Linked DNA regions of Homo sapiens: regions 1, 3 and 4 are each linked to region 2. Evidence: fine-mapped expression QTL. A gene starts in region 2. Each other region holds a variant in brackets. All regions are shown on one strand. Distances are between the middles of the regions.

Region 1 (8,000 bases), 36 kb after region 2:
TAGTGTGTTCACAGAGGTTGCAGTGAGCCCAGATCACACCACTGCACTCTAGTTTGGGCAACAAAGTGAGACTTCGTCTCAAAAAAAAAATAGATAAATAAAAGTACAATTAGTAATTTCATTCCTTTTCTCAAGTTCCCAAGGTTTTAGGTAATTCCCAAAAGGTCTCAACATCCAGTCTGCTCTACTTTTAGGATGTGACCTTGATTTCAACTTCTTACATGTCTTATGACTCAAAGTTAGCACTTTTGAAGCATAAAACAAATTTGTAACATTTTCATCACCTCAAAAAGAATCTCATTCCTTGTAGCCATCATTTTCCAAACCTCCCATCCCCTCCAATTCTAGGAAAGCACTAATCTATCCTCTGTCTTATAGATTTGCGTATTCTGGACATTTCATAGAAATGGAATCATGGTTTTTTTTGTAACTGGCTTCTTTCACTCAGCATAATATTTTTGAGGCTTATTCAAGTTGTAGCATGCATCAGTACTTCATTTTAACATTCCATTATATGGATATACCACTTTTATTTATCCATTCTTCAATTGATGGACATCTGGGTTCTTTCCACTTTTGACTATTATGAATAATGCTGTTATGAGCATTTGTGTACACGTTTTTGTGTAGATATGTGTTTTCATTTTTCTTGGATATATACCTAGGAATGGAACTGCTGGGTCATATGGTAACTCTTTAGGTTTAACCTTTTGAGGAACTGCCAAACTGTTTTCCGAAGTGGCTGTACCATAGTTTTTACTCTTACGTTTAGGTCTGTGATCCATTTTGAGGGATTTATTTATTTATTTATTTAGTATATTGTGATATAAAGGTCAAGGTTTTTTTGTTTGTTTGTTTTTGAGTGTCAGCTAGGCTGGAGTGCAGTGGCGCAATATTGGCCCACTGCAGCCTCTGCCTCCCGGGTTCAAGCGATTCTCCTGCCTCAGCCCTCCTGAGTAGCTGGGATTACAGGCATGCGCTACCACACCTGGCTAATTTTTGTATTTTTAGTAGAGATGAGGTTTTGCCATGTTGGCCAGGCTGGTCTCAAACTCCTGACCTCAGGTAATCCACCCGCCTCGGCCTCCCAAAGTGTTGGGATTACAGGTGTGAGCCCTTGACCAGGGTCAAGGTTTTGTTTTTGATTTTGTTTTTATATGGATATCCAGTTGTTTCACAGCAACCTGTGTTGAAAAGAAAGTTCTTTCCTCATTGAAATATCTTGGCATCATTGTGGAAAATCAATTGACTATGTGTGGTTCTATTTCTGAACTTTTTACTCTGTTTCATTGGTCTGTTCCTTATGTGTCTGAACATTTGTGTCATTTTGGGATTGGTTTCTGTTAAATGTCTTTTCCCTTGAGAATGGGTCATATTCTTCTGGTTCTTTGTATATTGAGTCATTTTGGATTGTATCTTGCATATTTATGAATGTTACATTGTGGAGACTCTGGGTTCTGTAATATTCCTCTGAGGAGTATCGATGTTTTTGTTTTAGCTGGCAATAAGCTGTAAGCTGTGTCGCCTTCTGTGGGTTAAACTTCAAATCTCAGTTTAATTCTTTCAGCCTTTGCTGTGCTACTTTGAGTCTGTATACATCCAAGAAGGGATTAGTCTGAGATACATGTGGTGTTTATTCTTAGAATTAAGGATCACCTTCTCTGGTTTTCTCTTGTCTTGGATTCTCCACTCACTCTGGTAGCAGCCATGGTTACCTAGAATCTTTTCCCTATATGTTTGAGTCAGAAAGACGTCACTTTCTGAGTTTTAGTTACTTAAATTGTGCTATTTTGTAACTTATGCCCACAAGCAGGGCAAAGCCCTCTTAATGCAGGAGTGTACCCCACCCTGTGCATCATTGCTCCATGTTTTGAGTCCCCTCCACAGTCTGCCTGCTTTTAGTGTGTAATTCAGACTCCTCAGATAATTGTTTTTGTATTTCGTCCAGAATTTATAGTGGTTACAGCAGAAGGGTTGGTCTACAGGAAGTGTATGCACTACTTGAAATGGAGTTTTCAGTTCTGTCAGGTTTTTCTTTATTTATAATGAATATTATATCTTGATGAATTGATCCCTTTAACATTATTTATCTCTTTATATAAGTCTCTATCTGTAATATATCTATCTGTCTTTATCCCTGGTAATATTCTTTGTTCTGAAGTCTTTCTCTCATATAACATATGAGCCACTAACATATAGCCACTAGTAGCCATGTCACCTTTCTTTCGGTTATTGTTTTCGTTGCTATATTTTCCATTTAACCTATTTATACATTTATAATTAAACTGGGTTTCTCATAGAAAGCTTAGAGCTGGGTCTTGCTTTTTTATCCAGTCTGGCAATGTTTTTATTTGGAATGTGTAGACTACTTACCTTTAGTATAATTATTGCTATAGTTAGGCTAAATCTACTATCTTGTTCTTTGCTATCTATGTTGTATCATTATTTATTTTTTTCCTCATTTCCTGCCTTCTTTTGGATGGATAGAGTATTTTTAAATGATTCTATTTTATCTCTACTATTGTTTTATTAGGTATAATTTGTTTTTTTTCTTGGTTTACAGTATATATCTATAATTTATGAACATTTACCTTCAAATTATATATTTGAATTTGTAGTTGTATAGACATAATATATAGTACATATATATTATATATAGTATAACACTGTATATAGGTAAGTATATCTAATATATCTAATTTTATAATATATAAATATATAATATATATTTGTATTGGCCATTTTGTCCCCCCGTCAGATGTTAATTCCTACAAATTTGTGAGTTTTCTAGCTTTCCCTCTGTTACCAATTTCTAACTTTACCCCACTGTAGTTATAGAAGATACTTAGCATAATACCTTCTGTGTGTGTGCGTGTGTCAAGGTTTCTCTCTGTTGCCCAGGCTGGACACAGACACACACACACACACACACAAACAAACACACACTATATATATAATTTAAGACACTTACAAGAGTATATTTCCCCCCGCCATCCTTTGTGCTATTGTTGTCATACATTGACTTCTATATGTGTTATAAACTTAATGATACATTGTTATCTTTGCTTTAAACAATTGCCTTTTAGGCTTCAGGATTGTCAGTTAAATATAATTGTTTTTGCCTGGGTCTACTGACAGACAGGTTTACATCATCTCTATTACTTTTTTTTTTTTTTTTTAATTTGTTTTTTGTTTTTGAGCTGGAGTTTTGCTCTCATTGCCCAGGCTGGAGTGCAGTGGTGAGATCTCAGCTCACCACAACTTCCGTCTCCCAGGTTCAAGTGATTCTCCTGCCTCAGCCTTCCGAATAGCTAAACTACACGTGTAAGCCACCATACTTGGCTAATTTTTGTATTTGTAGTAGAAACAGGATTTCACCATGTTGGCCAGGCTGGTCTCGAACTCCTGACCTCAAGTGATCTGCCCACCTTGGCCTCCCAAAGTGCTGGGATTACAGGCATGGGCCACCGTGCCCAGCCTATTACATGTTTTAAGGTCATAAAACTGCTACTTCTGGAATATTTCTTAAACTTGCTTGATTTGTCTAAATTGAGCTAAAGCTGTAAGGTCTGGCTGCTGGGCTCCCTGAAACCTTGCACATATCTTACTGTATGACTGTATTTCGTT[T/G]TGAGTCTCTGGATTCTGGGGTTTGGACAGATGACCATAGTGAGGCCTGCAGAAATATGCATGTCCTCAGTGTTTGGACTGCCAGCTGCAAGGCAGAGCCAAACCCAATATGGCCCCATCATCCCTGGCTCAGCTGTGCTACCTGGCCATGCTGGAAGGGGTTTGATCTTCCAGGAATTTGCTTCACAGCTCTTTCCTGTCCCAAGATCTATGCCTGATGTGTAAATTCAGGACCCAAAAGGGCACAAAAAAGCAATAACTACTAAATATAAGGAAAACAACTCTGTATACAGCATGTATAAAGAAAAGCAAGGTATATTTGGGGAGATAAAAGTTGTAAAGGCATTAAGATGTGTGTTTGTTGAGAAAAAATAAATTTGTGCATTTAAGAAGTTAAAAAAAAAAACAACAAAAAAACAATTGCCTTTTAAAGAGTCGGGGTTTTTTTGTTTTTTGTTTTTTGTTTTTGTTTTTTGAGGTGGAGTCTCACTCTGTCACCCAGGCTGGAATGCAGTAGTGCAATCTTGGCACCCTGCAACCTCTGCCTCCCAGGCTCAAGTGATCTCCCACCTCAACCTCCTGAGTAGCTGTGACCACAGGTGCGCACCACCACGCCCAGCTCATTTTTTGTGTTTTTGGTAGAGATGGGGTTTCATCATGTTGCCCAGGCTGGTCTTGAACTCCTGAGCTCAAGTGATCCGCCAGCCTTGGCCACCCAAAGTGTGCTGGGATTACAGGCATGAGCCACCACGCCTGGCGTTAAAGAGATTAAACATGAGAAAAGAGTTATTTTATATTTGATCACATATTTACCATTTCTTTCTTTCTTTCTTTTTTTTGAGACGGAGTTTTGCTCTTTTTGCCCAGGCTGGAGTGCAATAGCGCGATCTTGGCTCACTGCAACCTCCACCTCCCAGATTCAAGCAATTCTTCTGCCTCAGCCTCCCGAGCAGCTGGGATTACAGGCATGAACCACCACGCCTGGCTAATTTTGTATTTTTAGTAGAGACAGGGTTTCTCCATGTTGTCCAAGCTGGTCATGAACTCCTGACCTCAGGTGATCTGCCCACCTTGGCCTCCCAAAGTGCTGGGATTACAGGCGTGAGCCACCATGCCCAGCCCATATTTACCATTTCTGATGCACTTTATTCCTTTGTGTAAATCTAGTTTCTGTCTGGCATTAGATTCCCTCTGCTTGAAGAACTTGCATTAATATTTCTTGCATTAATAGTGCAGGTCTGTTGGCAATGAATTCTCTTAGCTTTTGTTGATGTGAAAAAGTCTTCATTTCACCTTTATATTCGAAAGATTTTTTCAGGGTATAGAATTCTTGGTGGATTGTTTTTTTCTTTTCTTTTTCTTTTTATTTATTTATTTATTTTTGAGACAGAGTCTTGCTCTGTTGCCCAGGCTGGAGTTCAGTGGTACGATCTCGGCTCACTACAGCCTCTGCCTCCTGGGTTCAAGCAATTCTCTGCCTCAGCCTCCCGAGTAGCTGGGATTATAGGCGCCCGCCACCACGCCCAGCTAATTTTTGTATTTTTAGTAGAGACAGGGTTTCACCATGTTGGCCAGGCTGGTCTTGAACTCCTGACCTCGTGATCCACCCGCCTTTGCCTCCCAAAGTGCTGAGATTACAGACGTGAGCCACTGTGTCTGGCCGATTTTTTAAATTTTTATTTATTTATTTTTTTAAAGTACCAAAAGAAAAAAACAATCACTCCATTGTAATCCCAGCACTTTGGGAGGCTGAGGCAGCAAGATTGCTTGAGGCCAGGAGCTTGAGATCACCCTGGGCAACATACTGAGACTCTGTCTCTACAAAAAATGAAAAAATAGCTGGGCATGGTGACACAATGCTGGTAGTCCCACTTACTTGGGAGGCTGAGGCAGGAGGATCACTTCAACCCAGAAGGTTGAGGCTGCAGTGAGCTGTGGTCATACCACTCCACTCCAACCTGGGAGACAGAGCTAAACCCTGTCTCAATTTAAAACAAAATCACTCCAGTCTTCTGGTTTTCATAGTTTCTGATGAGAAGCCTGCTTGTTTTATTTTTTGGTCTTTTCTATGGATTATTTTAACCCTCTCTGGCTACCTTCAAAGTTTACTCTCTTTTTAAAAAACAGAGACAGGGTCTCACTCAGTCATCCAGGCTGGAGTGCAATGGTGCAATAATAGCCCACTGCAGCCTTGACCTCCTGGGCTCAAGTGATCCTCCTGACTCAGCCTTCCGAGTAGCTGGAACTACAGGAATGTGCCACTGTACCTGTCTAACTTTTATATTTTATTTTATTATTTTATTTTTTTGAGATGGGGTCTCACTGTGTCTCCCAGGCTGGAGTTCAGTGGCACCATCTTGGCTCGCTGCAACCTCCACCTCCCAGGGTCAAGCAATTCTCCTGCCTCAGCCTCCCAAGTAGCTGGGACTACAGGTGTGCATCACCACACCCGGCTAATTTTTGTATTTTTACTGGAGACAGGGTTTTACCATGTTGGTCAGGCTGGCCTTGGACTTCTGGCCTCAAGTGATCTGCCCACTTCAGCCTCTCAAGATGTTGGGATTACAGGTGTCGGCCACCGCACCTGGCCACCTAATTTTAAAAATTTTTAGTAGAGATGGGGTCTTGCTATGTTCCCCAGGCTATTCTCACACTCTCAGCCTCAGCAATCCTCCTTCCTCAGACTCCCAAAGCACTGAGATTACAGGCCTGAACCACTGCACCTGGCCTGCAGCATTTTCTCCTTATCTTTAGTTTTCAGAGTTTCATTTTTACATGTCTAGGTGTTTGTTTCTTATTTGTCCTGCTTGAGGAATATGTGGTTTGATATCTTTTATTATTTTTGGAAAACTATCAGCCAGTATGTTTTCAGACATTTCTTCAGCCCATTCTTTTTCTCTTGCCTTTCTGGAGGTTCTAGTTACCTGTGTTTTACACTGTTTGATATTGTCCTAGAGCTTTTGGGTGTTTTATTCTATTTTAGCTCTAATTTTTCTCTTTTTTTTTAAAATTTATTTATTTTTTATTGATAATTCTTGGGTGTTTCTCACAGGGGGGATTTGGCAGGGTCATAGGACAATAGTGGAGGGAAGGTCAGCAGATAAACAAGTGAACAAAGGTCTCTGGTTTTCCTAGGCAGAGGACCCTGCGGCCTTCCGCAGTGTTTGTGTCCCTGGGTACTTGAGATTAGGGAGTGGTGATGACTCTTAACGAGCATGCTGCCTTCAAGCATCTGTTTAACAAAGCACATCTTGCACCGCCCTTAATCCATTTAACCCTGAGTGGACACAGCACATGTTTCAGAGAGCACAGGGTTGGGAGTAAGGTCACAGATCAACAGGATCCCAAGGCAGAAGAAGTTTTCTTAGTACAGAACCAAATGAAAAGTCTCCCATGTCTACTTCTTTCTACACAGACACGGCAACCATCCGATTTCTCAATCTTTTCCCCACCTTTCCCGCCTTTCTATTCCACAAAGCCGCCATTGTCATCCTGGCCCGTTCTCAATGAGCTGTTGGGCACACCTCCCAGACGGGGTGGTGGCCGGGCAGAGGGGCTCCTCACTTCCCAGTAGGGGCGGCTGGGCAGAGGCGCCCCTCACCTCCCGGGCGGGGCGGCTGGCCGGGCGGGGGGCTGACCCCCCGACCTCCCTCCCAGACGGGGCGGCTGGCCTGGCGGGAGGCTGACCCCCCTACCTCCCTCCCAGATGGGGCGGCTGGCGGGGCGGGGGGCTGACCCCCCCCACCTCCCTCCCGGATGGGGCGGCTGGCCTGGCGGGGGGCTGACCCCCCCCACCTCCCTCCCGGACGGGGTGGCTGCCGGGCGGAGACGCTCCTCACTTCCCAGATGGGGCGGCTGCCGGGCAGAGGGGCTCCTCACTTCTCAGACGAGGCGGTTGCCGGGCAGAGGGTCTCCTCACTTCTCAGACGGGGCGGCCGGGCAGAGATGCTCCTCACCTCCCAGACGGGGTCGCGGCCAGGCAGAGGTGCTCCTCACATCCCAGACGGGGCGGCGGGGCAGAGGCGCTCCCCACATCTCAGACGATGGGTGGCCGGGCAGAGATGCTCCTCACTTCCTAGATGGGATGGCGGCTGGGCGGAGATGCTCCTCACTTTCCAGACTGGGCAGCCAGGCAGAGGGGCTCCTCACATCCCAGATGATGGGCGGCCAGGCAGAGACGCTCCTCACTTCCCAGACGGGGTGGCGGCCGGGCAGAGGCTGCAATCTCGGCACTTTGGGAGGCCAAGGCAGGCGGCTGGGAGGTGGAGGTTGTAGCGAGCCGAGATCACGCCACTGCACTCCAGCCTGGGCACCATTGAGCACTGAGTGAACGAGACTCCGTCTGCAATCCCGGCACCTGGGGAGGCCGAGGC
Region 2 (8,187 bases):
GGTCTCACACTGTACTGTGTTCTTTCAAATCTCTGTGTGTTTGAATATGCTGTTTCCTTTGTCAGAAATGCCCTTCCACCACTATCCTTCTCTGCCGCAATTGCTAACTCTTCTCATCTGTAATCACTTAGCTCAGCTCTCCCATTTCGTGAGTCATCTTCCCTAACTCCTCCCTCTGGATACGTGGAAGTCCCTCCGATGTGCAATCCTAGCAGCTTGTGCAGGACTCTCCTCACAGCTCTCATCATGCTCTATTGCAATGGTTTTTTGTTTTCTCTCCTGCTAGATTGTGAATTCTCACCAGCAGTAATGGTGTCTTATTTTCTTTTGTTATTTTAATGCTCTGATCATCTTTTCTTCCAACCTGATCCTTTCTAAATATTTTTAAATTTATTTTTTGAATAGGCAACACTCATGTGACTGAAAATTCAGAAGTTACATAAAGGTATAAAGTGAAAAGTCTCTCTCCTACCCCTGTCCCCGCCTCTGACACCCTAGCTATCCAGTCTCCCTCCCCAGCAGCAATCAGTGTTATCAATTTCTTGTGAATACTTCTAAAGATATAAAAATATATATGGTTCCCTTTTATTTTATTATTATCTTTTTAGATGGAGTCTTGCTCTGTCGCCAGGCTGGAGTGCAGTGGCGTGATCTTGGCTCACTGCAACCTCCACCTCCCAGGTTCAAGCGATTCTCCTGCCTCAGCCTTCTGATGAATACAGGCACCTGCCATTATGCCCGGCTAATTTTTGTATTTGTTTTGTTTTGTTTGTTTTTGAGACAGAGTCTTGCTCTGTTGCCCAGGCTGGAGTGCAGTGGCACAATCTCAGCTCACTGCAACCTCCACCTCCCGGGTTCAAGTGATTCTTCTGCCTCAGCCTCCCGAGTAGCTGGGACTACAGGTGTGCACCACCACACCCGGCTAATTTTTGTATTTTTAGTGGAGACGGGGTTTCGCCATGTTAGCCAGGCTGGTCTCAAACTCCTGACCTCAGGTGATCCACCCACCTCGGCCTCCCAAAGTGTTGGGATTACAGGCGTGAGCCACCGTGCCTGGCCCATGGTTCCCGTTTTATATACAAATAGTATCATGTTGTATAGATTGTGCTGCACTTTGTTTTCACCAAATCATATATAGTATTGATGATATGATCATTCCATATAAGTGCATACAGAGCTTCCTTATTCTGTGTTTACATTGATTCAATTTTCCATTGTGGATACATTATGATTTAACAAATAAACATTAGGTTGTTTTCAGTCTTTTGTGAATACAAACAATGCTGCAATGACTTAACTTCATAAAAACATCACTTCACACATGTGCAAGTGTAACAGTAGAATGAACTCCTGGAAGTGGAATCGCCTTCAGTTTGAGGAATATGTGTATTTGTAAGTTTGACCATGTCCTGTTGCCTTTCGGGGACATTCAGTATATTTTTATCTAATTCAGAGTAGGCATTCAGTATATTTTTATCTAATAAACCAATGAAAAAATAACTCTTTTAGGGGAGGCTCCCTTCTTTTTCCTTTCTCTGATGCCTTGCTTTCCCCATCCAGTGCTCAGTTCAAACCAAATTATTCATATTCAATCCAAATGCCACTATTATTTTGGAGCAAAACTCTTATATCAACTTTATTGTGTAACTAGTCAAGATCCTTCTTCATTAGCTTGGTTGTAAAATAAGGTCATATTAATTTTTATGTTCTAATTATAATGACTTTGAGTCCTCATCCCATATTTTGTGAGATCTCATCTTTGTTTTTTGGAGACAGGATCTCACTCTGATGGTCAGGCTGGAGTACAGTGGTGTGATCTCAGCTCTCTGCAGCCTTGACCTCCTAGGCTGAAGCGATCCTCCCACCTAAACCTCCTAAGTAGCTGGGACTACAGGTATGTGCCATCATGCCCAGCTGCTTTTTTTTTTTTTTTAGATATAGTCTCGCTCAGCCACCAGCTAATTTTTTATTTTTTGTTGAGATGGGGTCTCACTATGTTGCCCAGTTTGGTCTTGAACTCCTGGGCTCAAGGAATCCTCCCACCTCGGTCTCCCAAAGTGCTGGTATTACAGGCATGAGCCACCACACCCAGCCTTTAAAAATTTGGGGGGACTCTTTTGTAATAACAGTTAGCTTAAAACACAAACACATTGTACAGATGTACAAAATATTTTCTTTCTTTATATCTTTATTCCATAAGCTTTTTTTCTATTTAAGGCAATTTTTAATTTTATGTTTTAAACTTTTTTTTTTGGTTAAAAACTAAGACTTAAACACAAACATAGCCTATGCCTACACCAGATCTGGATCATCAATTTCACTGTCTTCCACCTCCATCTCTTGTCTCACTGGAAGGTCTTCATGGGTAATAACATGCACAGAGCTGTCATCTGATGGTAACAATAACTGGGGCCAGGCACAGTGGCTCACACCTGTAATCCCAGCACTTTGGGAGGCTGAGGTGGTTGGATCACCTGAGGTCAGGAGTTCGAGACCAGCTTGGCCAACATGGTGAAACCCTGTCTCTACTAAAAATACCAAAAAATTAGCCAGGCATGGTGGCGCATGCGTTTAATCGCAAGGGATTTGGGAGGCTGAGGCAGGAGAATCACTTGAACCTGGGAGGCAGAGGTTGCGGTGAGCCGATATCGTGCCATTGCATTCCAGCCTGGGCGATAAGAGCGAAACTCCATCTTAAAAAAAAAAAAAACAAAAAAACAAAACAAAACAAAAAAACACAATACTTGGAATACGTGGAAAAAAATCACAATACTTAGAATACCTAGAATACCTTCTGAAGGACCTGCCTGAGGCTGCTTTACAGTTAACTTAAAAAAAAAAGTAGAAGGAGTACACTCTAAAATAGTGATAAAAACTACAGTGAATTCATAAACTAGTAACATAGTTCTTACCATTATCAAGTATTATGTACTGTACATAATCATATGTGCTATACTTTCACATGACTGGCAGTGCAGGTTTGTTAACACCAGCATCACTCCAAACATGTGAGTAATGCTTGTGCTATGACCTTATGGTGGCTACTGTGCCACTAGGTGATAGACATTTTTCAGCTCCATTATCATCTTAGGGGGCCTCCCTCGTGTTTGCAGTCCATTGTAGACCAAAATGTCCTTATGTGGCACATGACTGTAGTTGCAATACAGGACAAGAAAGTTGCACAATAACTGGGCCTTAGTTCCTGATACTTAGTAGCTGGATGACTTTGAGCACTCTAAGGTTGTTTCCTAATAACGTAAAATAGGGAAGCTAATCGTGATCCGGTTGCCTCACAGGTTGTTGGGCCCTGGTCAACATATAAGTTACTGTGCCAAAAAATGAGTTGATATAATTTAAGACTGTGTTGAATCACAAACGTTAAGTTATTCTAACATTATTGTTTTTTAGAGGTTATGAAATGAAAGGGGGGGGGGCGAAAAACTTGGTCCGCATCAAGAACTGAATCATTTTACCACGCTGGGTGCTGGGTTATACTCTCCCCACCCAGCAGATCAAACTCCTAACCCAGCATGAAAGATAAACTACAACTCCCGGCAGGCCTTGCTTCCGAACTGCGTCTTATAACCTCGGCTCAGGCCCAGGCCCAGACCGCTCCCCGCCCCCGCCACCCATAAACTACATCTCCCAGGAGGCCCCACGGTGCCCGATTGTCCGCTTTTCGCCCGCCCCCTGCCTCCTCTTCACCCCGCGCCAGCAGCTCGGTGGCCGAGTCGGTCCCGCGGCCGGCGGATCGGGCGCGCGCGTCGGGGGTCGTCCGGCTGCCAGGCAGGGCGAGCACGCGCCGGGAGGCCTTGGAGGCGTAGGGGGCGGGGGTACGGCTCGCCTGCTCGCAAGATGGCGGACGAGGACGGGGAAGGGATTCATCCCTCAGCCCCTCACAGGAACGGAGGTGGCGGCGGCGGCGGGGGGTCTGGGCTCCACTGCGCCGGGAACGGCGGCGGGGGAGGCGGCGGCCCGCGGGTCGTGCGCATCGTCAAGTCCGAGTCCGGCTACGGCTTCAACGTGCGGGGCCAAGTGAGCGAGGGCGGGCAACTGCGGAGCATCAACGGGGAGCTGTACGCGCCGCTGCAGCATGTGAGCGCCGTGCTGCCCGGGGGGGCGGCCGATCGGGCCGGGGTGCGCAAGGGGGACCGCATCCTGGAGGTGTGAGTATCGGGGCTACCCGCCGCCCCATCCTCCCCGCGCCCCTCCTGCCCCTGCACTCCTCGCTACCCTTGTCACCCCCAGGCCGCACCTCCCCCGAGCTCCGAGCCGGCCTCCGGACCCCCGCCCCTCAGGCCTCCGCAGCCGGGCCCCTCCTTGTGGGCTGCCCTCCCACCACCCGCCCCGGGGCTTCTGCGACGCCGGTCTCCCACCCCGTCGTCTCCAGCTGATGCCCTTGCGCCCCCAGTGCTCCTCCCTGTGCCCCGATTACTCTGGGCTCTTCTCCGCCCCTTTGCCTTCCCGTTTGGCGTGCTGCATTCTGCTCCTCACTCCCCCTCGTCTTGCTCAGAAGGAACCTCATCTGCTCCTTACTGACGGCGTTTCGTTTTCTGATCCAGCCAGTACCGTGTCCCCCCCAAGTTCTCATCTTCAGCATCGCAGTTTCGTTCTCCACCACTCCCCTCCGCCCCCGTGGACTGCCCCTTCTGCCCTCCAGACCAAGTAGGCAGGACCTCTGGTCTGCTCCTACTTTTCCTCCGGAAACACCATCCCTCCCCGCTCGTCTCCTTTTTCTTTCCTTAGTTACCCTCTCCTCATGGTTACGCTGCCCCTAAATTTTTCCATCCCACCGTGTGCCCCTTTCCTCCCCTCCTTTTTGTATTTCTACTCCAAGAGTTTACCTTGCTTTCTGACCCTTGCATGCCTTTGGGGTGGGGGGCGTGGGATTTGACACCGTAGTTTCTCTTCTCGGTTGGCCCCGTATCACACCCTAATTTGGAATCTAGCGTCTCCATCAGCACACCCCTCTGAGAGCATCCCTTCCCTGGCCTCCTGCCTTCACTCCTGCTCTATACTCATGCCTCCTCCTAGTCAGGTTTATGGTAGACCCCTTGTAACTCCTCCTCCTTCAAAACTACTTCAAGCCCTTTTTGGGTCTTTGACCGCTTTGCTTTTTTAGGGCATGCCCGTCTCTGCTGCCTCTTCTACTCTATCCTCCTGTGATCCCACACTTGACTTTGTCCTAGTCTTTCCCTCCCCTAGGCTGCTTTTCCTTTCTTCTGTTTTTTAAGGCGCCTTCTGCTGCTGCAGCCCACCCTCTCTCCCCTGCTGCAGTCCCTCCCCCTTCATACGCCTCCCCCACCACATCCCTCCATGCTCTTGCGGGATGCTGCCTTGTCTTGCAATCTCTGTGCACACCGCCTCCATTACCCTAATCTAGGTGTTACATTTGCCTTTTTGTACTTCGTATTGAAATTCGGATAGTGATTGCCGGTTGACTTGCAGGTGGTGTGTGCTCGCGTTGTCTCCGTTCTCCTCAGCAGTCTTCAGTGCTGTGTTTCTGCTTACTGAATCTATGTTGTGCATTCCTTTTTTACACTTTTACTCTCTCCCTCCATATTTCGATTTGCCCACTTGAAATCGTTCTCATTTTTTATAAATTTTAATTGTAATTTCCGCAACCTTCTGTTGCCTCTTGTAAAACAGTAGGTTTGCAAAAGGGATAGTTTTTTGAAAATCTGCCTTATAGAGAAATCCATTCCTTCTTACTCATCTCGTGCCATCTACCCTTATCCTTGACATTCTTAACTCCATGGTGTCCACTCATTCTGTTTCCTCACCTCTTCCACCTCAAGAAATGGTTGGTTTTAACCTGGGAGAGTTGATTGAAAAAAAAAAAAAGAAATAGTTGCTCACCTAGGCCAGTGTTTGGAGACAGTATACCTTTCCTCTGTCCTTTCTGTAAATAGATGCTTTCTTGTTTCATTAATGTCCTACATACTGTTTCCTAGTATTCCTAGTATTGTCTGACAATATATTCTTTTTTTTTCCTTGAGATGGAGTTTTGATCGTCACCCAGGCTGGAGTGCAGTGGCGCGATCTCGGCTCACTGCAACCTCCGCCTCCCGGGTTCAAGCGATTCTCCTGCCTCAGCCTCCTGAGTAGCTGGGATTACAGGCATGTGTCATCATGACCAGCTAATTTTGTATTTTTAGTAGAGACGGGTTTCACCATGTTGGCCAGGCTGGTCTGAAACTCCTGACCTCAGGTGATCCGCCCGCCTCGGCCTCCCAAAGTGCTGGGATTACAATAATGACTTTCAGATTTCTTATACTTGGGCACCTAATTATTTTCTTTCTAGATAACTCAAAATTTGTGGCTGATGTTTTCTTCCAATAGAAGGTCTCAGAATTGTCACTTTCCTTTCCCTTTGGAAGTTAATTTTGGACTCAGCTTCTTATTTTTAAATTTAAAACTAAAGCATTTATAATTATAAATTTATGATGAAGTTCTACATTATTTACTCTTCACAGGATCTAAAGGAACTAAACCAAAAAGAATAATTCTGTAGGAGACTATAGTTAATATGATCTATCTTTGCAGATACACGCACACATCCCAACATACATAGTTAGTGGCTTCTTGCCTTTATTGTGGCTTCTGCCCAAGAGCCTAGGTATAAACTGTAAAGGAGACCTCAGATAATCCCCTAGGAAAGGTAGAAGGACTTGCCTTAGGCTCAGGTTCCAGACTAGGAAGCTGGGAAATCTTTGCCTTCTAGAGAAAAAACATTACTTTTTGGCACATCCTTTGTGGTAAGTAGAGAACTTTGTCACTTTTAGTGGGCAGGGGAAAAGAATACTCTGCCTAGAAGACCTCTCTGGAAGGTTGTGATAATCAGAAATCTTCCTGGCATTGGTTTCTCACTCTTCCAACTATCTGTATTTTGATTTCCAAATTCTCTGAACCTTCTTTGGTACTATAGGGGAAGTAATGATAATTACAGCCCAAAGCCAAGCTAGTGGTACATTCTGTGAGACCCCAACTATACAGTGTCTTTCTCTTTTCTTTTTTTTTTTCTTCCTTTCTTCGATAGTCTGCGCCTTCTCTTTAGGGTTTCAAGTGAGAGGGGAAATCAGCAACCAAATAGATGTGGTTCTTGAGGGATATCTGTGCCCGCTACTTGTCTCGATCTTGGTTAGGTTGATGCTAATTTTCCTAAAGCATTTTTTAGGCAATACTCCTTAGAGCTTTTGTCTGTCCTCCAAGTTCTTAAAGTTTACCTCTGTTGTCCCAGGAAAGCTTTGCATGTTGCTGAAGAGCCAGGTGGGGTCAGAATTAGGGATAGGTGGATTATCATTGTGTGGATATAGTTTGTATCAAGTCATAGGTGAATGTATGGACCTTGATAATTGCTATTTAAGACTTTTCCCTATTTTAGATTCTTCTATTGTGTTTACAAATTGTTTTTGTAACAATTTTCGTATTTTTCAGTTGTTTGGACAACTGACAGTGGTGTGAAAGAACAGAGTAACTTTGAAATTTAAGGGCATACAAACTTGGACACAAGTAAGAGCTTCAGTTTCTTTGTGTTTCTTTTAAAGTCGGCTTACCAAGGCTCTGTCCTAATCTTTAGTCCTGAAACTAAATTGGAGCCCATATGGTTCAGTTTGCCTTTTCTCCTTTCAAAACTGTCTAGATTCTAACAGGGCTTGGTACTGCAGTATGAACAAGCCCTCTGGGCTCTAAATTTTACTGCAGATGGAAAGTTTTTTTGACTAGCAAAGCTGGTTTCCACCTTGTAATTTTTCCCAGTGTAACATATACTGAGTGTTTTCCCTTTGATGTGTATGTACCTGGAGGCTAATGAGTAAAGAATGCTTTCAACAAACAGAACCAAAATAAATATGTCTTTGCACTAATTATATAGTATGTGAAGTAACATTTGACTTCAGGTTAATTTTCTTAAGGTTAAAGTAGTTCCAAGGACTCTTGATTGATTTCTCGAGAGACGCTGCTGGAAGGTTTTAGTGTGTGGTGGATATGGATATAAAACTGTCTGTATTTTTGAAGGATTAGTTTAAGCATGGACCACTAAGATTGGCTTGCAAGCATTCAAAATCATGATATATTTATGCTAGTCAGTATATATGCTTTCCTCTTTGATAGCCACCAGATAATAGACTCATCAACTTTCCCTCATTAAAGTCATAAGATAAAATAAAACTGTGTATATCAATTTGT
Region 3 (8,000 bases), 75 kb after region 2:
AGACTCTGTCTCAAAACAAACAAAAAAACCCCATCAGATCTTGTGAGAACTCCCTCACTATCATGAGACCAGCATGGGGAAACCAGACCATGATCCAGTCACCTCCCACCGGGTCCCTCCCTCGACATATGGGGACTACAATTTGAGATGAGATTTGAGTGGAGGCACAGAGCCAGACCATATCCCTGGACATGTGGCAGAGTTCACTGGTAATGATGGTGGTCCAAGTGGATAAGAGATTTTCTGAAAATGCGTCTGTGTCTGTTTTCATCGAGAATGTACATAATAATGATTTTTACACTCCTTTCTGCTCTACTTCTGTTTTGGTGATAGGCAGTCGATGATGTGAAGAAAGGTTACATCAAAGCAGAAGAAAAGTCCTATCAATTACAGAAGCTATACGAACAAAGAAAAATGGTCATGGTAAGTTTATGTCCCCATAATCCCTTTAAAAATGCCCCTTCCTACCTTTAAAACCTATAGTCCTAGTCATTTTTGAAAGGATTACAACCTGGTTAGTGGCTTAACTAATTTTAAAAAAGGAGGGGAATAGGGACCTTGATGCAAAGTCCATTGTGTTTCTCCATTTAACACACAAAGATCTTGAATTACTGTGTATTAGTACATAATTTTATTATTATTTTGGGGGGTGGGGTGGGGGAGGGACAGAGTCTTGCTCTGTTGCCCAGGCTGAAGTGCAGTGTCGCGATCTAGGCTCACTGCAACCTTTGCCTCCTGGGTTCAAGCGATTCTCCTGCCTCAGCTTCCCGAGTAGCTGGGACTACAGGCATGTGCCACCACACCCAGCTAATTTTTGTATTTGTAGTAGAGACAGGGTTTTGCCATGTTGGCCAGGCTGGTCTCGAACTCTTGACCTCAGGTGATCCACCTGCCTCGACCTCCCAAAGTGCTGGGATTACAGGACTGAGCCACTGAGCCTGGCCCATAATTTTATTATTAATAATAACTATTTTTTGGTTAAAAAGTGCTAAAACAAAAGTTGTGTAAAACATTACAATAGGATATAGATAAGATTGTATAAGACCTGATATTTAGCTTTTTAACATTAGGAGTTATTTTAGTCATGATTTAGCAATAGCAAAATCATTTGTTTTTACAGCTTCCATTTCTGCAGTTGCTTAAACATTTATGCTCCGTAGTGCTCTTGGTTAGTATATCATCCTAGAATTGTGCTATTTGATTCAATAGCTACTAGACTCATGTAGGTATTTAAATATAAATTTAAATTCATTTAAATTAAATGCAATTTAAAATTCAGTTCTCTAGCTGCTCTAGCCACATTTCAATGCTAAGCAGCCATATGTGCACAGTGAATAGCTAGCATATTGGACTGTGCAGGTATAGAACATTTTCATCATCACTGAAAGTTTTGCCGAACAGGGCTGCCTAGAGTATTCCTTAAATGGCTTTAAATTCATTTTCAATTTGTATCTGCCATAGATACAGGGATGGAAATTGTCAAAAATAAAATTAGTAAAGAACACATAAAAATTTCTACTCATTATAACATTTTTAAATTTCTCTCTTGGCAGATTCACATGCAGTTGAAGTTTTTTCAATTATACATGCTTCTCAACTTACGATGGGGTTACATCCCAATAAACACATCTTAAGTTGAAAATATTAAATCAAAAATGCATTTAATACACCTAACCTACCAAACATTATAGCTTAGCCTAGCCTATCTTAAATGTGATCAGAACACATATTACCCTACAGTCAGGCAAAATCATCTAACACAAAGCCCAGTTTAGAATAAAGTTATTTAAACTGTTTTTTTTTTGAGACTGAGTCTTGCTGTGTCACCCAGGCTGGAGTGCAGTGGTGTGATCTCAGCTCACTGCAACCTCCGCCTCCTGGGCTCAAGCGATTCTCCTGCCTCAGCCTCTCGAGTAGCTGGGACTATAGGCACCCAACACCACGCTTGGCTAATTTTTGTATTTTTAGTAGAGATGGGGTTTCACCATGTTGGCCAGGCTGGTCTCGAACTCCAGACCTTGAGTGAACCGCTTGCCTCAGCCTCCCAAAGTGCTGGAATTACAGGCGTAAGCTACCGTGCCAGGCCTAAAGTTATTTAAAGTTTTGAACAAAAATTTGAGGTACTTGTAAAGACAGCAGAAAAGTTAAAAAAAAAATTGAAGTACAATGTCTACTGCACACACATTGTTTTCACACCATCATAAAGTCAAAAAAGCATTAAGTTAACCATTGTAAGTTAGTGACCATCTGTATCATTTTCATTCTTTAGTAGTGATTCTGATAGGTCATTTGAATTCTTTTGTACCTTCTGTGTACTTTTCAGGAGAGAATATTGATTCATGTACATTAATTGGGTTGGAATAAGAATGCAAACAGCTGCGGGGCACGGTGGCTCACACCTGTAATCACAGCACTTTGGGAGGCTGAGGCGGGTGGATCACCTGAGGCCAGGAGTTCGAGACCAGCCTGGCCAACATGGTGAAACCCCATCTGTACTAAAAATGCAAAAAGTAGCTGGGCGTGGTAGCATGTGCCTGTAATCCCTGCTACTCAGGAGGCTGAGGCCAGAGAATCGCTTGAACCCGGGAGGCGGAGGTTGCAGTGAGCCGAGATTGCAACACTGCACTTCAGCCTGGAAAACACAGTGAGACTCCGTCTCAACAACAACAACAACAACAAAAAATGCAAACCAGTCAGCCATTGAACTTAGCCTGTAATCTTATATCTAGCTAAGTTAGTTATTTTAATCATTTATGTGATGAAAAGTAATAAATCTCTATACCTTAGAAAATTGCCGAAGATCAGGGAGCCACCTTACCAATGTTCTACGTATCAGCAGGCTGACATAGAAAATGCAAAATCTTTTAAATGTAATTAAATCTTGGCAGAATTTTGGTTAGGAGAATTTTGCTATGTGTGAGACAGAATTTTAAAACACGACTTCCACCTGTTCTTTAAGATAATGGCATTGTCTTCTATATATTAATGCATGATTCTGACCAATACATTTGCATCTTTTTGGTGAAAAGGGCCAAATACTAACAGGCCATCAACTTCTGCAGTAATCCTTTGCCTTTGCTAAAGCCAACAGAGTTTTCTTGTTTCTGAAAAGTTAATAGAGTCAAAATAATTTCATAAGGTCTTCTGATAATACCAGTGTGGAATACATACTGTTTCTTTGCATTTATAGTATTCCAAACACACTATCTTTCCATCTATGTATTCAACAAAACATATTTGTTGAGTACCAAGTACGTGCCAGGCACAGTGCAAGGTGTGAGAGAAATACATAGGTTTGCATTGTGCTGTGGCAAAATATAGAAAATCTGAATTTAATAAACACAGTAATCTATTATGAAGTCATTTTTAGACTTGTTTATATTTTGTAATCACCCAGGTAAAAACTCAAGTATAGTTGATAGACAGATATGTTTCCCCATGGTCTTTTGCCATTGTGTATAAAATATGCTTAAACATTTGTGGAATTAGATTGTCTTGAAAACCTAGTGCCAACATATTTCTGTGTACTAGCCACATGATATGATAGTCAGATTTTGAAGAAAGGCTCATCA[A/G]AGTTTGAATTTTATGAGTATAATATGTATTCAAGTATCAGTGTTCAAAGGCATTAGCCTAGCCAATATTAGGTCATGGTCAATACATTGAAACTTCTCACATGGGCCTTCTGAGCCCATAGGCCCTGATGCCATTAACCATAGCAACTAAGTGTGGTGAACAGGCCTACGATTAGGCCAGGTCACTACAATTAGTAGTTGTCACATCACTGTGAGAACTGCAGCAACACAATGAACTTCTCAGTTTTAGTTTCTTTTCTGTAAAATGGGGATATTCCGATTATCAGCTATTAAGTAGAATCTTGACAAAATACACCAAGATTCTTGGAAGATAAATAAGCTTTGTGTAAGTTCCCCTGTCCTCCAAATCTTCAAATACAGAAGAGAGCTCACGTCTGTGCATAGTTTATAATACCCAGTGTGATCAAAAACATTTTTGTTTTTTACTTACTTACAAAGTTAGACTGAATCTCAAATTTGGATGGTTGAGAATATAATATACAAGAAACAATGTTTTCTCTTCTCTTCCTTCCTCCCTCCCTCCCTTTCTGTCTCCTCACACAAACAGTAGACATGTGTAAATTATGCTTTTCTTATGTTGAAGTGGCCTGATTTTGCCCTTGTTGAACAGATAAATAAAGAGCTTTTGTGTTTCTCTACATAATTTGTATTGATTTCACACAAGGCAGCATGTATGTCAGTTTTTCTCAAAGTGTGGTCTCCAGTCTACTTACATGGAAGACACTTTTGAAGCTGCTTAAAATGCAGATTTCTAGACTCCACCCCACATTTACTAAGCCAGAATCTCTGGGGGTAGGACCTAGGGAACTTTATTTTTAAAAAGCACACTGGTGATTCTGGAACGTTAGGTGCTTCAGAATCACTACTCTGATTCTGGTTTTGGGAGAGTTGGCTCTTGAAGTTCCTCTCAGTCCCTTACTTCTATTTTGGACCTGGTTTGACCCTTAGCAGGTTGTTTGGGAGAACAGAGAGTTCTCTGGAGTGGACCTTGACCCATTCACCTAAAGTGTTCTGCTCTGTTAAACACTGAGTCTCTGCTTTAAAAACTGTCGGCCTGGCGCGGTGGCTCACGCCTATAATCCCAGCACTTTGGGAGGCCGAGGCGGGCCGATCATGAGGTCAGGAGATCGAAACCATCCTGGCTAACACGGTGAAACCTCGTCTCGACTAAAACTACAAAAAATTAGCCGGGCGTGGTGGCGGGCGCCTGTAGTCCCAGCTACTCAGGAGACTGGGGCAGGAGAATGGCGTGAACCCAGGAGGCGGAGCTTGCAGTGAGCCGCGATCGCGCCGCTCACTCCAGCCTGGGCGACAGAGCGGAGTCTGTCTCAAAAAAAAAAAAAAACAACGAAAAACAAAAAAAAAAACTGCCCTATGTCTGTATTTATTTGTCTTGCTGAATATTGAACATTTATAAAATATCCTGTACTATACCTGTCCAATTCTCTGGCTTAAATGGGCCACTTTCTACATGATACATGAATAAAGGAAGATAATTCGGGATACATAGTTACTCAAAACTTAAAGTGAAAACTAAGGGAAGCTGTGTCCTTGGTGAGACAACAGAGTAAAGTCTCACTGGGAGACAGGGTGGTCAGAGAGACTCAGGTTGGGTAGTATTTGTCAACTTTAAGTGGGAAGTCCCTGAAAGGAGAATGGGCAGGATGATTTGGTGTTTTAAATACCAAATACCCTTTTAAATATCCTTATGTAAACATGCTTAAAAGCAAAAATTCAGCGAGGCGCGGTGGCTTACGCCTGTAATCCCAGCACTTTGGGAGGCCAAGGCAGGCAGATCACGAGGTCAGGAGTTCGAGACCAGCCTGGCCAGCATGGTGAAACCCCGTCTCTACTAAAAGTACAAAAAATTGCTGGGTGTGGGGGTGCACGCCTATAATCCCAGCTACTCAGGAGGCTGAGGCAGGAGAATTGCTTGAACCCGGGAGGCGGAGGTTGCAGTGAGCTGAGATCATGCCACTGCACTCCAGCCTGGGCAACAGAGTGAGACTCTGTCTCAAAAAAAAAAAAAAAAATTCACCTGTTTTTACGAATTTTTGATTTATATAAATAAATTTTTGTAACTCATTTTAGGTTTAGGGACACGTGCAGATTTGTTACATAGATAAACTGCATGTCATGGGAGTTTGGTGTACAGATTATTTTGTCACCCAGGTAGTAAGCATGATACTACCTGGGTGTTTTTTCTGATCCTCTCCTGTAAAGTTTTAAATGTTTCTTCTTTGAGGCTTTGTGCAAGCCCAAGAATGTAGAGACTGCCCACTTAATGCTGATAAATACTGCCCAATCTGAGCTCTCTGAAAACCTTGTCTTCCAATGAGACTTTACCTTTATCGGCTCACCAAGGGCACAGGTGCCCTTAGTTTTCACTTGGGTTATTTTTAGAGCTTATGCCATTAAGAAGTCCCCTGAAGGTCTTTTGCTTTCAAGGACTACATTCTTGAATATGGAGGGATAAATTAGTCTTTTGATTCAGAGGGGACGGACAGGGCATGTATTATGTGCCTGACTGGTCTAGGCACTTTATATGAAGTCTCATTTTCTCCTTATAACAACCCTGCAGGTATTATTCTTACTTTACAGAGAAGTGAAGTCTGAGAGATTAAGATTCTTACCTAAGATGACGTAGCTTCTCAGAAGTGGAACTAGAATTTGAAAATGTGATTTGAACCCATTTTTGTCAGGCTCCAGTGCATATATTTTTCCCTGCATCAGGGAAGACAGGATAGCAGCAATGTCTTTTATTTCCAGATGGCAGAAGAGAAGACCCCAGGTAGAATAACTTACTCAAGGTCACAAAGAGAGAGTTTAAGGTACTCAGAGCTCCACGCTTCTTCTGATCTCTTTTCCCAAATCCCTGCCTTTGTCGGCATGCTTCTCTCTTTTTAAAAGATCTATTATAGTAAAAGTCCCAATTAGAGATTGTGGCAGAAATATTTGTCAAAACAGTAGTGGTACCTCTCAACGAAGAGAACTCTCAACAGATGTGCTGTATGTAATCCTGTTTTGTTAAAGGACATGAGTAGTACTAGTTTCAAGGGTCAACGACACCCACTGGCATTTACAGAGGTGTTAAGTGTCCTGGAGCAGAATTGCTGCTTATCGAGCATGTAAAGTTTCTGATGACTATGTTAGGAAGATGGCTTGGATTGAGTGCCAGAGGCCTGGTTGCTAGGGTGTTCTTTTTCTTTTAACATTTTATTGTATCTATATATACTTTTTTTTTTTTGAGATGGAGTCTCAGTCTGTTGCCCAGGCAGGCTGGAGTGCGGTGGCACAATCCCGGCTCACTGCAGCCTCCACCTTCCAGGTTCAAGCAATTCTTCTGCCTCAGCCTCTCATGTAGCTGGGATTACAGGTGCATGCCACTATGCCTGGCTAATTTTTGTATTTTTAGTAAAAATGGGGTTTCACCATGTTGGCCAGGCTGGTCTCGAACTCCTGACCTCAGGTGATCTGCCTGCCTTGGCCTCCCAAAGTGCTGGGATTACAGGCATGAGCCACCACACCCAGCTGTATAAATTTTTAAATACATAAAGAAGTTGGAAGAAAAATACAATTAATCCCCTTGTATCCATTACCCAGCTTCGATAGCCTTCGACTTTCTGCCATTCATGTTGCCTCTATCTCACTCACATGCTTTTTTCCCCTCAGGAGATTTGTGTGTTTGTTTGTTTTACTGTCACTGACTTGAAGCTCACCCCAGGGATTTTTAAAAGTAATTTCCAGATACTTTAAAAGTTTTTTTTTAGCTGTCATTTATTAAATGCCTAATTATGGCTGAGTACTATGTTAAATATCTTTTTTATTTTTATTTCTTGTTTTGAGACAGGTCACTTATTTTGAGATTGCAGTGGTGCAGTCTCAGCCAGGCTGGAGTGCAGTGGTTCCATCATAGCCTTGACCTCCTGGGCTCAAGCAATCCTCCCACCTCACCCTCCCAAGTAGCTAGGACTACAGGTGCCCGGCAAATTTTTTTTTTGTTTTTTTTTTTATAGAGATGGGGTTTCACTATATTGCCTAGGCTGGTCTCTAACTCCTGGGTTCAAGTGATCCTCCCACCTCAGCCTCCCAAAGTGTTGGGATTACAAGTGTGAGCCACCATGCCCAGCCAAATACTCTGTATTTAATGCTCACAAATCACACTGTGGTTTAGATGTTATTATTATTTCCCATTTATGGAAGAGGAAACTGAGGCACCTGGGATTAAGTAATTTGCCTGCCTTAAAGTAGCTTGCGCAAGGTTGCACAGTTAGGAAGTAATGGAAGTAATGGGGCCAGGATTCAAGCCCAGGGTAGTCTGGGCCTCTTCCTCACTCCTCTGTGTTTCAGGCATTGCTGTTTATTATAACCCCAGAAGAGTTCTGTTCTATACCACCCACCCCTGTC
Region 4 (8,184 bases), 84 kb after region 2:
CTGGAGATACTTTGATGCTCACTTGCTTGTGACGTTTTAATTCCATTTTAGGGGGAAATGAAATCAAAACTGTATTTTGACTGGGGCAAATAAACAGGCATGGAATCCACACTGATCCTCAACTTCATTGGCTGCTTCCACTGATTTGTATTCTTCTATCACAGTCCTTTCTCTGAAGCGATGCAGACATCCATTCATTTCTCTTCTGTCTCCTGGTTCAGAACCCCCTACCTCAGTTCCCCAGCACTCTGAAACACAGACTGTACCTTACTCCCTTGTCTTGGTTGTCCAGAACCAGGTAATTGCATTTGAATGGGATGAGATGCAGCGATGGGACACAGATGAAGAAGGGATGGCCTTCTGTTTCGAATATGCACGAGGAGAGAAGAAGCCCCGATGGGTTAAAATCTTCACGCCATATGTGAGTGCAATTTGGGGAAAGTAACTGGGACTTAGTTTGTTTTTTTGTTTTTTTTTTCAGCTAAATGCATAAATGGAGAGAGAGATAGAGCTAGTAGTTGTCTTGAGATCCGAACCTGTTTGAATCCTGGAGCCCCCAGATTCATCCTGTTTTTGCTTTAGGCCTGACTGGAATTGGCAATTTCCTATCCCACTTGGCTCGTAGTTACCACTAGAAGGAGCTAGAGAATAGTGGATGAACCAGGCCTGGGTTTTATGGTACTTGTCAGGGTTTTTCTCTAGACTGAGTTTGGAAGATGGGATGACTGGGGACAGGAGTTCAAAGGCACAGTCCTGAGATGCCTGCTCTTGAGAAGTTAGTGAGTGTCACCACCTTTTTTTTCAGTTCAATTACATGCATGAGTGCTTCGAGAGGGTGTTCTGCGAGCTCAAGTGGAGAAAAGAGGTAATTCTGAACAGTCCTTGAATTGACCTTTTCATCTTTTTGTTTCTTTAAAATTTATAGGCCTGTGGCCAAATACCTGGGACCCTCACCTCCATCTCTGTCTTTCTAGGAATATTAGTTAGAGACTGATTATCTCATGTGAGCCAGGACATTCTTCCAGCAAGGTTGGCCTCTGGATGGTGAACGGGCTGTGCAAAAAAGCCCTGCTTCTTCCCTTGTCTAGAGGGTGGACATTGGCTACAGGCTCTTCCATCTCTCATGACTTCATGGACCCTCCTCTGCCAGTTTTTTAAATCAGATCACCCTCCATGTTGTTCCTGACCCACAGGGGAAGCTGTCCTCAGTTGTAGCCGTCTTGACTGGATGAGTCCTGGCAGTCTTTCTAGGCGAACCAAGAATGTTTGTGTGAGGGAAGGTGTTTGCTGTTGCTTTACTGCTGTCTGTATGTGCCAGTGCTGGAACAGAATTTGGAAGATTCTGAATAATTAGTTACTTATTCTCAAAGAAAATCTTTGAAAGAATCAGGAGGTCAAGTCAAGAACATGAAAATTTATATTTTAGTACAGTAGAAAGAACATTGGGCTCTGGGAATTTTATCTGGGTTTTCTCCTGGCTTTTTTTTCCCTCTGTGTAATTTTGGGTAAATCAGCCTCCCTAGCTTTCAGTTTTCTCTTCTGTGAAACAGGAAGACTGAACCACGTAATTAATATCCAAGGTCCCTTCCGGCTCTAAAAGGCTATGATTCTAGATGAGAAGTTATATCAAGAAAGATGTGGCCAATCAGATTGAGTCATCCAGGCATACCTTTTTAGCTTCTGTTTGTGGAGTTGTCTCCAGATAAGAGGAGATGTGCCTTCCCAATAACTCTTTTTTTTTTTCCTTTCAGAACATTTTCCAGATGGCGAGGTCACAGCAGAGAGATGTGGCCACCTAGCCTTTCCTTATCCCCTTCCCTTCCCTTCACCCCCATCCTCTTACTCCTTTCATGTCCCATTTCAGACAGAGTAACCATTAACAAAAAAGAAGAGAAAAAGTTAAAGTCGTTATATTCAAAAGCCCTAAACTAAATATTATTAATAACCCCCTCTGAATTTCATGTCTCTGGAATTGAGGTGGTAGTGAACAGCAGATCGGTCAGCACCAGAAGTCAACTGAGTTAAGGCAGGAAAAGAAATAAGCCCAACCAACTTGCCAAAGGTATCTTTGTCCTTTCACCTGGGCCTCATACCAACAGCCTCTCCTTGTACTATATTTTTAAAACTGGAACTATGAACTTCATCCATTTGCACTGTTCAGACATATATATGTATGTATGTAAAAATTATATATACACAAATTAGCTGCACGTATATACATATATATATTTCTTTTTAAATTTCATATTGATGGCAGTACCTTTTTTAGCTTGTGTTTTTACACACCTTTCACTAGAATCCATGACCTCCCTCGTGCTCTCTTTCTTTTGAAACAAACTTTAAAAAGGAAAAAAAAGCATTTTACAGGGAAAAATACCTCTCCTCATGAAGGACTTGAAAAGTTTACAACCTGCTTGGATTTTTGCCCCTTTTTTTGTATTGAGTATAGATTCCGGCTCATGGGTTGCCATAGAGTCTAGGAACAAGGAGTATAGTTTCTTTATCTTCCAAGAGGGTGCTGGGGAGGAGAAAGAGGTGTGTTTCTCAAGGTTAACAGGCTGTAGTTCTGCAGGGAGAGCCTGAAGTCCTGGTATGGGCTCTTGATTCTGTGACAATTTTTTTGATCCATCTATTTCTCTCACTCCTGGCTTTCTAGCCACATTCTGCACCTCCTTCCTGCTTTCCTAGAGCCTCGGTATGCTTTCCCTCAACCGACCCTGGCTCAGGAGGTTGATGCCATGGGAACCTGAACCTGAAACACTTCATGGTAGTAATTTCCTGTTTTCCTTGCCTTTTTTTTTTTTTTTTTTTTTTTTTTCTGAGACAGGGTCTTACTCTGTCGCCCAGACTGGAATGTGGTGGCATGAACATAGCTCACTGTTACCTTGAATTCTGGGCTCAGGTGATCCTTCCGCCTCACCCTCCTGAGTAGCTGGGACTACAGGTGTGCACCACCACACCTGGCTAATTCTTCTTAAAATTTTTTTGTAGAGACAGGGTCTCACTATGTTGCCCAGGCTGGTCTCAAACTCCTGGCCTCAGGTGATCCTCTTGTCTCAGCCTCCCAAAGTGCTGGGATTACAGGCATGAGCCACTGTGTCCTTCCCTGCCTTTTTTGCAGCAGGGATAGTACTCAGGACCAGAGTTAAGCTGATACCTTAGGCACACAGGTTGGACTTACATAGAGGAAAGAAAGCAAGAAATGCCCTATGTACATGAGGTTTTACCTCCTCCATTCCTGACCAATAACCACCCATAACTACGGCATTCTCTGTGACTTCCTTAAACAGCAGTGATGGGAAGGGATCCAATAGTATCTTCAAGGCCTTGGGGAAACTTGCAGTGGGTCAGTGGTCTGTGCCAACCAAACGATAGCCCCATCCAAGCCAGCTGAGAACCTAGGAAGGAGTAGTAGGAATATGGTTGATTAGATTGGATCTCCCAAGTTTTAATTGAAAGGAGACTGAACGAAAACCTTTCTGCTTTCTGTCCGTTAAAGAGCTCCTCATCTGATCTTGCAGCTAGACCCTTTGAGACTTAAGAGCTGCATCCCAGGATCAGAAGCCAGGGCTAATTGGGGTAGGACAATATTCCCAGCCCCTAAGCTCTGTAGATAATGCATAAGAAGCACCAAGTCAGGCTCAGATGCAACTAAAACACATCTTTGAGCCTTTTCTTTTTCCCTTCTCCCCTTTCTAAACAAAAACCTTCCTAGGATGGCATCTTTTGCTCTAACTGGGAGACAGTCATAATTGGTTGTAGTCAATTCTACTAAGCAGTGTTGGGGTGGTTGGAAAGTCTCTTTTTTGTAATTTGTTTTTGCAAATCATTGTGAGGCCACTTTTTCTTTCTTTCTTTCTTTCTTTCTTTCTTTCTTTCTTTCTTTCGTTCTTTCGTTCTTTCGTTCTTTCTTTCTTTCTTTCTTTCTCTTTCTTTCTTTTGCTTTCCTTCTTTCATCTCTTTTTTGTAATTTGTTGTTGCAAATCATTGTGAGGCCACTTTTCTTTCCCCTTCCTTCCTTCCTTTTTTTCTGTTTTTTTTTTTTTTTTTTCCCAGAGTCTTGCTCTGTCGCCCAGGTTGGAGTGCAGTGGCACGATCTCGGCTCACTGCACCCTCTGCCTCTTGGGTTCAAGCGATTCTCCTGCCTCAGCCTCCCAAGTAGCTGGGATTACAGGCATACACCACCACGCCCCACTAATTTTTTGTATTTTTGGTAGGGCGGGGTTTCACCATGATGGCCAGGTTGGTTTTGAACTCCTGACCTCAAGTAATCTGCCCACCTCGGCCTCCCAAAGTGCTAGGATTACAGGAGTGAGCCACTGCGCCTGGCCCACTTTTCTTTCTTTCCTTCTTATTTTGTTATGCTGGCAGCCATTTGCCCCTGCATGGTATGGGATCAAAGAGGACAGCCTTTCCTCCCTCACCTTCTCCAAATCTAGGTGAAATCACAGAGTACAAAA[C/A]GTGAGAATGCTGAATGTGTAAAGTTGCAGAGGGATCCCTAATTTGAAGACTTTGACACAGAACTAACTTCTTTTGACTTAAATGAATTTAAAATGAGCCAAAGGACCCTGAAAAGAAGACATGTTGATTTCCCACTCCTAGATGCTAAAGAGACTTGGCACCAGCTTTGTTCAAACTGTAAAAATAGCAATTTGCCCCTACTCGCTCAGAGTGGGACAGTAGTGAACAGAGCTGGGATTCCATGCGACAGCTTGAATGCTGACCTTCAGACATGAGACATAGGGATTTGGAGGCCCCTTAGAATGGGTAGATGGTGTTATGTTCCCTTTCTGGCATAGCATTCACTTGGTGCTTTGGAGATTAGGTGAGGGCCCTATAGGTAGTTGGCCTGTTGGCAGAATTTATTTAGGAACAGCCCTTTTGAAAGTGTCCCAGTAACAACGCACCCAGCTGCAGCAAGGAGGTGGGGAAGGAGGGCACCCCAAAGGACAGCGCCTTCTTCTCTTCCACCCATGCACGGCCTTGGGTGATGGAGGCGGGTTCCCTGTGGCTGCGTGGATCCCATAGGATCAAGCCCTTCTTTGCATGAAGCAGTGTTGTGACTCTTCTCTCTCCCCTTCCTCTGCACTTCCTTTCTGTAATCCCTACTGTTCTTCTTAGTCCCAGCTTCTGCCCAGGGAGGCTTCTACCCAGACTTCTTTTGCAATTTGTCCCTGGGAAGAGGGGGTCTCCCAGTGCCCCCAGCTTCATCCCAGCAGAACCAGCAGGATCCTCCTGGTCTCTCACTGGCCTTCCTCCACACTTGGTTTCTATCCTCAGGGGTAGAAGCTCAGAGCTTTTTATGGCCCAGGAGAAAATGTAGACCCTGAGAAACCTGTCCCTGCAGAAAGGTTCCCTTGGGCCATGCTTTGGGCCCTCTGCTCTTTATATGTTTATTCTATTCTCCATTTTTCCACCCCGTCCTTACCCTAGGCCTAAACACAGGTACAGATATGTGCATGCTCAGGGCAGCTCCTAGGCCTGGACTGAGCTCTCAGGGGGGAATTAGATAAATATTCCAACATCCTCATGCCTGGCCCATTTAGTTTCATCCTTTAGTTACCCAGGCCAGTAGCTTTGGGTTATCCCTTCCTGTAGCTCCAAACCCAGCACTTGGAGCAGCAAAATAGGGCACTGACAGGAGATGAAACTCTCTCCTATCTCAGAATTTGCCAACTTCTGGGCTGGGCTCCTAGGAGGTAGTTTTCTTGAAGGGGACTGCATCCTAGTTGACCTGAATTTTCCAGACCAGGAGGGACTGCTGTGCTCTCCCTTCTCGCCATCATACTGTTTGGCTAGATTCATTCAGCAGTAGAAGCTGTTTGATCTGTTGACCCCAGCATACTGCTGTTTCTTCACCAGCTTCATTGTGTCACAGTAGCTTCCTTTGGGAGGATGATGTGATAGAACACTCAGAGAGAGGGAGGGAGAAGAGAGATAGTGGGTATGCTTCTCTAGCTCCCCATCTTCCAGGTCCACCTCTTGACTTCCTGTTCCCCTAAACCTGAGCACATCACGCCAGGCCTCTTTGCTGCCAGGACAGCATCAGCTCACTCCTCAGCAATAATCTAGGGTATGTGGGAAGGTCAGGGCTGTGGTAAGGAATAGAATCAAAGAGGGGAGTGATACGGGGTGGGGGCACTTGGCCGCCTGCTAAACTTGGACATTAATTTTATATCATGACCCCCTTTTAAGCCAGTGAGCTGGGCTTCAGTTTTTCCCAGGCCATGCACATTTAATTTATTTCAGAGAAACTCTAATTGTATTTTCACTGCAGTATCTTGTATTTTTTATTTGTGATTTAAGAAATGTGAAGAGAAAATACACAGACACAATAATGGCTAACATTGTTTCTTTCATTCCTTGTTCTAGAGCTAACCACTCTAAAATTGTTTGGTAATGTCACTTAGTGTAATTAATTGTAACATATTCTTTTAAATAAATTGATTTATTGATCAAACACTTCTTTGGTTTCCTAGACTACAAATCCTTTGGGTTGTGTGGGAAGAAGTGAACTGGGACCTTTGAGATTTGAGTCAGAGTGGTCAGTCTGAAAAGAAGAAACATCTAACCAGTTTTCCCAGGTAACTAGTGTGGCAGTTTTTTGAGTGCAGGGAATGGAGAAGGGTGAGGAAAGAAGCCACAGGAGGCCCTTGGTTTGCAGTTCTCTTCCCAGTGGCTCCTTTGAAAATTCCTTCTTCTCCTTCAGATCTCAGAGGTGATTGAGCTTACCCCTCCCATCTGCAAGCTTGCACAAAAATCCTTTGAAGAATCACAGGATTCCTTTCTCTGCCATGCAGATAGAGCCTGGCAGAGCCTTTGGTACAGATCTTAGCAATGGACCCTCCTCTCCACCCCCAGCAACAGGTATATACTTTTTCAGGTAAATCGGGAAAGTTTTTCTCTTTGGGATCTGGACTGAAAGGAACACATTATGACTATTGAACTGTCCAGCACAAAACTAGGCACTGTGGGTGGCCTTACTCTCCCCTGCTCCCACACTCCTGAGAAGAAGGGTGGTCCTACAGCCTTTTGCTTTTACAGAGGCATCTGAGGGGCTGGGGCCTAATTACCTTCTCTCAAGGGTATCTGTTCCTCTGCACATTTGTTTATGAGCTGACTCTGGTCTGAAAAGCTCAGCATTTGTGGTGGGTGAGACATTTTAATTTTTTTATAAAGCTTCATTTATTATTATTTTTACAACTTCCGATCACACGCTTTTGTTCCCTAACTGATGACCATAAGACCAAGGACCATTGTGGCACTTTGTTTGGCAGTTTGGGAAGAGACATTGTTCAGGGGCTCATTCATTCACCCACCCATTAGCTTTGGATATTTAAAATCTAAGAAACACTACTGTGCTAATGGAGGGGGGAAGTGTTACCTTTCCTAAGCAAAGAATCCATAAAGAAGAACAAAGTGGAATTCCAGAATTAGAGTTACAGTGGTTAAAGTCAAACATTTATTAGGTATCTGCTGTTGGGGGTGGGGTGGGGAGATTGTTTGAGATACTGCAACAGACACAAAAGCAAAGAAAGAAACATTTCTGCCAGCTTACAGGCTCACAGAAGAATGAGACACTTACGCATGGCCATGATACACAGCAGTGAAAGGTTTAAGTGCCATAAGGACTAGAAAAGGAAGGAGAAAGACCTGTGGATGAGGGCCGTTAAGATTTTCATGAAGAAAGTAGTGTTTAAGGTGAACTGTTTTAGTGTGAGAAGGATTTCAACAAGAAGGCATTCAACAAACATTTATTGAGCCGTTATGTGCCAGACACTGTAGTAACTGGGAATGAAAAGACATGGGAGAAAAGGGACCAAACTTGCCTAGAGAACAATGAATAGTTCTATTTGGGTATGTGTAGGAATGAAGTGGAAAGTAAGGCTTCGAAGAGCCTTGAATGCCAGGCTGAGGTGTTCTATGAAAAACAACAAAAAACAGCAGCAGAGAAGTTTTGTTTTTTATTAGCTGCAGTTTAGAAAGATTGATGCTTCAGAACATAGACAGAAGGACCAATTAGGAAATTGCTATGATTACTCAGTTAATAAGTGTAGGCAGTGATAATTGAAAAGAGGGAAATGATATGAGAAAGTTTGTGGAAGTGAAATCTTAAATGATTTAATACCATTGAGTTTATGCGAAAGTACTAAAAACTCTTGAGGTTTTCTGTCTATGTGACTA

Direction of the effects. Positions count from the first base shown, and alleles are read on the strand shown. Sizes are in standard deviations (SD) of each study's normalised expression. Not every link is listed here.
As copies of A replace G in region 3, the expression in transverse colon of the gene that starts at base 3,704 in region 2 goes down (small effect, 0.27 SD a copy in GTEx).
As copies of C replace A in region 4, the expression in coronary artery of the gene that starts at base 3,704 in region 2 goes down (small effect, 0.39 SD a copy in GTEx).

Evidence for each region. PIP is the estimated chance that this variant, and not a neighbour inherited with it, causes the effect.
Region 1: its variant is the best candidate, but not a certain one, in a credible set for the expression of SNX27 in whole blood (INTERVAL, PIP 0.80).
Region 3: its variant is the best candidate, but not a certain one, in a credible set for the expression of SNX27 in transverse colon (GTEx, PIP 0.57).
Region 4: its variant is the best candidate, but not a certain one, in a credible set for the expression of SNX27 in coronary artery (GTEx, PIP 0.69).

The regions. Positions count from the first base shown.
Region 1 is chr1:151,643,971-151,651,970 of GRCh38, forward strand. The region is part of intron 2 of SNX27 (sorting nexin 27); the gene reads left to right. Among named protein-coding and RNA genes, the nearest start is that of SNX27, 36 kb to the left of the region's middle. The variant T/G (reference allele first, on the strand shown) is at 3,628.
Region 2 is chr1:151,608,347-151,616,533 of GRCh38, forward strand. It overlaps SNX27 (sorting nexin 27), which reads left to right and starts at 3,704. Exons shown (of 12, transcript NM_001330723.2): 1 at 3,704-4,166. The coding sequence starts at 3,856. LOC124904420 (a long non-coding RNA gene) reads right to left here and starts at 5,022. Exons shown (of 2, transcript XR_007066622.1): 1 at 4,845-5,022; 2 at 2,171-4,053. RefSeq lists an enhancer at 3,480-3,579 and a silencer at 3,620-4,059.
Region 3 is chr1:151,683,023-151,691,022 of GRCh38, forward strand. It overlaps SNX27 (sorting nexin 27), which reads left to right. Exons shown (of 12, transcript NM_001330723.2): 8 at 334-423. Among named protein-coding and RNA genes, the nearest start is that of CELF3, 30 kb to the right of the region's middle. The variant A/G (reference allele first, on the strand shown) is at 3,573.
Region 4 is chr1:151,692,619-151,700,802 of GRCh38, forward strand. It overlaps SNX27 (sorting nexin 27), which reads left to right. Exons shown (of 12, transcript NM_001330723.2): 10 at 293-421; 11 at 806-865; 12 at 1,752-6,462. The coding sequence ends at 1,799. It overlaps CELF3 (CUGBP Elav-like family member 3), which reads right to left. Exons shown (of 13, transcript NM_007185.7): 13 at 7,440-8,184. Among named protein-coding and RNA genes, the nearest start is that of CELF3, 20 kb to the right of the region's middle. The variant C/A (reference allele first, on the strand shown) is at 4,461.